2 linked regions of the Homo sapiens genome follow. The protein of the gene in region 1 purifies or fractionates together with the protein of each later gene. This does not show direct contact. Each region holds a gene or a part of one and is shown in the gene's direction. Other genes may lie near its edges. The genes, in order: SCLT1 and AKAP12.

Region 1 (3,824 bases):
TTTAACCTATGATAAAACAAGAAGTTTACAGAACTAGAAGTTTATAAAAAGTATTTCTAAGACATATAATGGAAAAATATAAAAGTAGATTTTATAATTTAGTAATATAGTCAGCTATTGTGTTAGTCCATGGAGTTTATTGATTAAGTAAAGGAGTTTTGGTTATTATCCGCTTCATCCTTTTTTTGTTGCTTCAGTTCATTTCCTTGAAGTTCTCCATACACAGTGATTCTTAATGTTAGTACAAATTTGAAAGAAGTCTCACATTGATTTTCTAGATAAGTGATAACAGTTCAATTCATCTGTTCTTAGTTAAAATTTGAATATATTTAAGTTGAATGTATTTGCCTGGTATAACATAACATTTTGAAACCACATAGTTTCAGTCTAAAGTGGAAAGAAATGGCTCAGAATAAAGCAAACAAAAGTCCATGTGATAAAATGTAGACAGACTTTTATCTTCTACTATAGATCATTAAGTTTAAGGATTCTTTTCATTTCGTTTTTTAATCAGCTCCTCAGAAGAAATATCACGTTACCAAGAAATGATTCAGAAACTTCAAAATGTATTGGAGTCTGAGAGAGAGAACTGTGGGCTTGTCAGTGAACAAAGGCTAAAACTTCAGCAAGAAAATAAACAGTTACGGAAAGAGACTGAGAGTTTAAGGAAGATTGCCCTGGAGGCTCAAAAAAAAGCCAAAGTAAAGGTATTTTCAAGACTAGAGTTAAATGTGTACTTATGAAAATCAAAGTATAGAGAATATTTAGAGAGACCTAGCAAAACATCTTTAAGGCCCCCTTTTTTTTTGCCTTCTCATCAGATAGCACTAAATCATAATTCAGAGTGTTAACCAATCATTTCTGTGTTGTAGAACTTGGCAGGCATACTTGAAAATGATTGCCTTTGCTACACACAAAAAAATTCTTTTCCAACCACGAAATATACTGATATTCCTGCCAAAGCAATTTAAGCAGCACTAGCAAAACCATGGATTAGATAACTTTACAGACTGCCTTCCTCTCTTCTCTCTCTGTAGTAGCCTTTGAAAAGTTGAACTTCTCTAAAACTAACTGTATAGAGGATGTTAAAGCAGTAGGCTCTGAGAACCATTCATAACTAGTCTGAAAATTCCATGGCAGGAAGAAGGCAAGAGGCAAAAATGTCATCTAAAACAAATTCCCTTTCTTTTCTCTCTTATTTCCTTCTCCTCTGATGCTTATATGGTTTGGTAATAGGAAGGTGATCCTCTTTTTAAGGGACTTTCAAGTAACACAATCTTCATCAACATCTTGCTTACCTTTCCCCATGTCATGAGACTTTTGTAAAAAGTGGCACTAACTTTTTATGATAAATATCTACATCTTCCAATTTCATAGTAAGAATATGAAGAGGTCATGTCACTGTTTTATTTTGGTTTTTATTGCTGCAAGGACTCCTAAGAAGTCATATTCCAACCTAATTCATGTCAACATAAATTTATTGAATGCCTCCTATTGCAGGTATGAAATGCCCTAGTTATTTGTAAAACCTTGAACTCCGAAATGAAAAAGAGAGTCTTATTTAAAAAGAAGTTTGTACTTTGACCTTTAGACTATGGGAGTTCTTTGAAGAACAAGGAGAGGACCCATACCGCCAGATATCAAGACTTGATAAAAAGCTAAAATAATTTAGACAATGTGTTATCAACATAAGAATAATCAACTTGATCAATGGCAAAAAATTGAGTCTAGAAACAAACTCATTTATCATAATCACTTGATTTATAACAAAGGCACCATTGCAGTTCAGTGGGGGGAAAACTGGCTTCACAAATGGTGCTAGATCAGTCAGATCCATATTTTAAAAATAAAACTTAACTCCTATATCACAGCATATATGCAAATTAGTTGGAGCTGCTTTGTAGACCTAAATGTGAAATGTGAAATGATAGTTTCTAGGAGAAAATCTTCTTGCCTTTGGGTTTGAAATATTTCTTAAACAGAGCACAAAAAAACACTAACCATGGTGAAAAATCCAAGCTGAACTGGATTTCACTAAAATTAAGATATTTTTAGTCACCAAAAGACACCATTAAGAAAGGGAAAAGTGGGAGAAAGTATTTGTAGTGCATATAACCAAAAAGAGAACTCATATCCAAAATATAAAAACTTTTACCAATTAATAAGAAAAATATTAATAAGGAAAAAACAGCTAATAGCTAATAAAGAAAAAAATAGATACTCCATTTCCAGAAAAGGCCAAAAGACTTAAGTAGGCACTTCATAAAATAGCATATAGGCAAATATGTTCAACTTCATTATTTTTTAGGAGAATTTAAATTAAAACTACAAGATAACACTACACACCACCAGAATGGCTAAAATTAAAAAGACTAAAAATATCAAGTATTTTTAAGAATATAAAGCAATTAGAACTTTGATAGATACTGCTGGGAATGTAGCATTATCTTTTAAAGCCAGACATACATACATCCTGATACGGTTTGGCTGTCTTCCTACCCAAATCTCATCTTGAATTGTAGTTGCATAATCCCAGTGTGTCATGGGAGGGACCCAGTGGGAGGTAATTGAATCATGGGGGCAGGTTTTCCCATGCTTTTATCTAAAGAGCTTTTAAAAATATAAGAGAAAACTATTTGTAACCGAATAAAAAATCATGTGAGAGTTGAACAGAATCTGCAATCTAAGAAAAAAAAACAGTAGGCAGTAAGCAGTTTAAACTCACCATTAATTAATTGCTAAGTATCTCTAAGTGAACGTGCAGCTAAAAGTATTAAATGGTACGTATTTACTTTAGAGTCTAAAATTCAGTCATAAGAAAGTAATTAAAATATTTCATAAATAAGTTCATTGCAGCATTATTTATAATAAATTAGAAACAACCTAAATATCTAGAAGTAAATATGTTACATCTATATGTATAGTAAAATTATGGAAAATACAAAACATTAAAAAAAATATATAAAGTCCCTCTACTCCCAAAACTCAGATAATACTTCTAACTTCTACATAATTGCTTTTATTTATGAATTTTAAAATTGTTACTATAGTGTATAAAGGATTACTACCTGTGTGTACACATATGTATTTTTGACATATAGTGTATATGTTTTTAATAAGATACTGTATTGTCATTAAAAACTATATTTCCAAATAATTTATAATGCATTTATATTGATACACCCTATGATTGAAAAATTTATGTGTATACACACATACATGTAGTAATCCTTTACATACTGTAATAACAATTTTAGAATTCATAAATAAAAACAATTATGTAGAAGTTAGAAGGGATTATCTGAGTTTTGGGAATAGAGGGACCTTATAGTTGTCTTTTTAATGCTTTGTATCTTCCATCATTTTATAATATATATTTGTTTTGTTTTCTTTTTTTTAATCATGGGTGGGGATGGAATCAATGAATTTTCCCTATCTAGTACTCCAGTTGATCCGTCTTTAACATTTCACTTTAATGCTTTGTTATTTTCCATAATTTTACAATATGTATTTGTTTTGCTTTCTTTTTTTTATAATGAGTGGGGATGGAATCAATGAATTTTTCCTATCTAGTACTCCACTAGATCCGTCTTTAACATTTCAGGATAGTAACTGATGTTATGGACAACAAAAGAGTAATAGAAAGTTTATCTACCCCACATATCTCACCAAATCTGTATCTAGCTTAAGAGAATAGCCATTGATAAAGAGCCGAACGTCTTAACTAACTAGCTATAATTCTATTTTATGGAGGAAGAAGGCTGTAAGATAAATTGCTTTGTAACTGATTCTTTCTTTGACAAAATAGGAACCTGGTGCACCTA
Region 2 (3,824 bases), on another chromosome or scaffold:
GTGACAGAACCTCTTGAACAAGTAGAAGCTGAAGCCGCACTGTTAACTGAGGAGGTATTGGAAAGAGAAGTAATTGCAGAAGAAGAACCCCCCACGGTTACTGAACCTCTGCCAGAGAACAGAGAGGCCCGGGGCGACACGGTCGTTAGTGAGGCGGAATTGACCCCCGAAGCTGTGACAGCTGCAGAAACTGCAGGGCCATTGGGTGCCGAAGAAGGAACCGAAGCATCTGCTGCTGAAGAGACCACAGAAATGGTGTCAGCAGTCTCCCAGTTAACCGACTCCCCAGACACCACAGAGGAGGCCACTCCGGTGCAGGAGGTGGAAGGTGGCGTACCTGACATAGAAGAGCAAGAGAGGCGGACTCAAGAGGTCCTCCAGGCAGTGGCAGAAAAAGTGAAAGAGGAATCCCAGCTGCCTGGCACCGGTGGGCCAGAAGATGTGCTTCAGCCTGTGCAGAGAGCAGAGGCAGAAAGACCAGAAGAGCAGGCTGAAGCGTCGGGTCTGAAGAAAGAGACGGATGTAGTGTTGAAAGTAGATGCTCAGGAGGCAAAAACTGAGCCTTTTACACAAGGGAAGGTGGTGGGGCAGACCACCCCAGAAAGCTTTGAAAAAGCTCCTCAAGTCACAGAGAGCATAGAGTCCAGTGAGCTTGTAACCACTTGTCAAGCCGAAACCTTAGCTGGGGTAAAATCACAGGAGATGGTGATGGAACAGGCTATCCCCCCTGACTCGGTGGAAACCCCTACAGACAGTGAGACTGATGGAAGCACCCCCGTAGCCGACTTTGACGCACCAGGCACAACCCAGAAAGACGAGATTGTGGAAATCCATGAGGAGAATGAGGTCGCATCTGGTACCCAGTCAGGGGGCACAGAAGCAGAGGCAGTTCCTGCACAGAAAGAGAGGCCTCCAGCACCTTCCAGTTTTGTGTTCCAGGAAGAAACTAAAGAACAATCAAAGATGGAAGACACTCTAGAGCATACAGATAAAGAGGTGTCAGTGGAAACTGTATCCATTCTGTCAAAGACTGAGGGGACTCAAGAGGCTGACCAGTATGCTGATGAGAAAACCAAAGACGTACCATTTTTCGAAGGACTTGAGGGGTCTATAGACACAGGCATAACAGTCAGTCGGGAAAAGGTCACTGAAGTTGCCCTTAAAGGTGAAGGGACAGAAGAAGCTGAATGTAAAAAGGATGATGCTCTTGAACTGCAGAGTCACGCTAAGTCTCCTCCATCCCCCGTGGAGAGAGAGATGGTAGTTCAAGTCGAAAGGGAGAAAACAGAAGCAGAGCCAACCCATGTGAATGAAGAGAAGCTTGAGCACGAAACAGCTGTTACCGTATCTGAAGAGGTCAGTAAGCAGCTCCTCCAGACAGTGAATGTGCCCATCATAGATGGGGCAAAGGAAGTCAGCAGTTTGGAAGGAAGCCCTCCTCCCTGCCTAGGTCAAGAGGAGGCAGTATGCACCAAAATTCAAGTTCAGAGCTCTGAGGCATCATTCACTCTAACAGCGGCTGCAGAGGAGGAAAAGGTCTTAGGAGAAACTGCCAACATTTTAGAAACAGGTGAAACGTTGGAGCCTGCAGGTGCACATTTAGTTCTGGAAGAGAAATCCTCTGAAAAAAATGAAGACTTTGCCGCTCATCCAGGGGAAGATGCTGTGCCCACAGGGCCCGACTGTCAGGCAAAATCGACACCAGTGATAGTATCTGCTACTACCAAGAAAGGCTTAAGTTCCGACCTGGAAGGAGAGAAAACCACATCACTGAAGTGGAAGTCAGATGAAGTCGATGAGCAGGTTGCTTGCCAGGAGGTCAAAGTGAGTGTAGCAATTGAGGATTTAGAGCCTGAAAATGGGATTTTGGAACTTGAGACCAAAAGCAGTAAACTTGTCCAAAACATCATCCAGACAGCCGTTGACCAGTTTGTACGTACAGAAGAAACAGCCACCGAAATGTTGACGTCTGAGTTACAGACACAAGCTCACGTGATAAAAGCTGACAGCCAGGACGCTGGACAGGAAACGGAGAAAGAAGGAGAGGAACCTCAGGCCTCTGCACAGGATGAAACACCAATTACTTCAGCCAAAGAGGAGTCAGAGTCAACCGCAGTGGGACAAGCACATTCTGATATTTCCAAAGACATGAGTGAAGCCTCAGAAAAGACCATGACTGTTGAGGTAGAAGGTTCCACTGTAAATGATCAGCAGCTGGAAGAGGTCGTCCTCCCATCTGAGGAAGAGGGAGGTGGAGCTGGAACAAAGTCTGTGCCAGAAGATGATGGTCATGCCTTGTTAGCAGAAAGAATAGAGAAGTCACTAGTTGAACCGAAAGAAGATGAAAAAGGTGATGATGTTGATGACCCTGAAAACCAGAACTCAGCCCTGGCTGATACTGATGCCTCAGGAGGCTTAACCAAAGAGTCCCCAGATACAAATGGACCAAAACAAAAAGAGAAGGAGGATGCCCAGGAAGTAGAATTGCAGGAAGGAAAAGTGCACAGTGAATCAGATAAAGCGATCACACCCCAAGCACAGGAGGAGTTACAGAAACAAGAGAGAGAATCTGCAAAGTCAGAACTTACAGAATCTTAAAACATCATGCAGGTAAGCTTCCTTGTCTTCTAAGATAATTTTTCTCTTTTATGCCAATAGATGGCAAATTTGTTACATAAGGAATCGGGAGCAAATAATTAATGCCTTCGTGTAGAACCTTCAGTTGAGGAAAATAACTATCAACTAGATTCAAAGATCTAGGATAGTTTCATGGTTTTTGGTGATTGAAATGCCATTTAGTCTTATCGATGTTATGAAAAGAACGACTTCGTTTTACCTCCTAATGTGACTGCTTTAGAATAAAATAAAACGGCATGTGTGTGTGCACATGTGCGTGTTTGACCCAAAGGCATAAGAAATACATTGTGTTCACTCAACTATCTTGTTGAGTTTTTTTAAAAATAACTAGTGCTCCAATGGCTGGGCGTGGTGCCTCACGACTCCGTCTCAAAAAAAAAAAACAAACAAAAAAAACTAGTGCCCCCAAATGGGCTAATATTAAACTGCCTGAAATATAGCTGATGATAGCTCTTTCAGAAAAAATGGATTTTTTTTCCCCTAGCAGTAGTAACAAGTATTTTTAAAAATTTTCCAGCGCATATAATGACCGACCCTCACTGTGTTAGTTACTTGCAGTTGCTAGTAACTCCCCATCTTTGTGGTTTTTGTTTTGTTTTGTTTTGTTTTCTTGAGACGGAGTCTCGCTCTGTCATCCAGGCTGGAATGCAGTGGCGCGATCTCGGCTCACTGCAAGCTCCGCCTCCCAGGTTCACGCCATTCTCCTGCCTCAGCCTCCCGAGTAGCTGGGACTACAGGTGCCCGCCACCATACCCAGCTAATTTTTTGTATTTTTAGTAGAGATGGGTTTTCACCGTGTTAGCCAGGAGGTCTCGATCTCCTGACCTCGTGATCCGCCCGCCTTGGCCTCCCAAAGTGCTGGGATTACAGGTGTGAGCCACCACGCCCAGCCCTATCTTTGTTTTGTTTTTTGAGAGAGCCTTGCTGTGTCACCCAGGCTGGAATGCCGTGGTGCAATCATGGATTGCTGCAACCTTGACTTCCTGGGCTAAAGCAAATCGCCTGCCTCTGCCTCTGTCTCCTGAATAGCTGCTGGGACCACAGGCACATGTCATTACTCCGAGCTAATTGTTAAATTTTTTTGCAGACAGGGGTCTTGCTATGTTGCCCAGGCTGGTCTCAAACTCCTGGCCTCAAGAAATCCTCCTGCCTCACCCTCCCAAAGTGCTAGGATTACAGTCGTGAGC

Evidence for each region.
Region 2: the proteins of SCLT1 (region 1) and AKAP12 purify together in Homo sapiens (affinity purification with mass spectrometry; one large-scale study listed by BioGRID and IntAct). This does not show direct contact.

Annotation. Positions count from the first base shown.
Region 1 is NC_000004.12:128,939,879-128,943,702, reverse strand, and holds part of SCLT1 (sodium channel and clathrin linker 1), read left to right. Parts: intron 1-514; coding exon 515-707; intron 708-3,808; coding exon of another isoform or gene 3,809-3,824. UniProt on the Homo sapiens protein: Adapter protein that links SCN10A to clathrin. Regulates SCN10A channel activity, possibly by promoting channel internalization.
Region 2 is NC_000006.12:151,351,143-151,354,966, forward strand, and holds part of AKAP12 (A-kinase anchor protein 12), read left to right. Parts: coding exon 1-2,598; 3' UTR 2,599-2,610; intron 2,611-3,824. UniProt on the Homo sapiens protein: Anchoring protein that mediates the subcellular compartmentation of protein kinase A (PKA) and protein kinase C (PKC).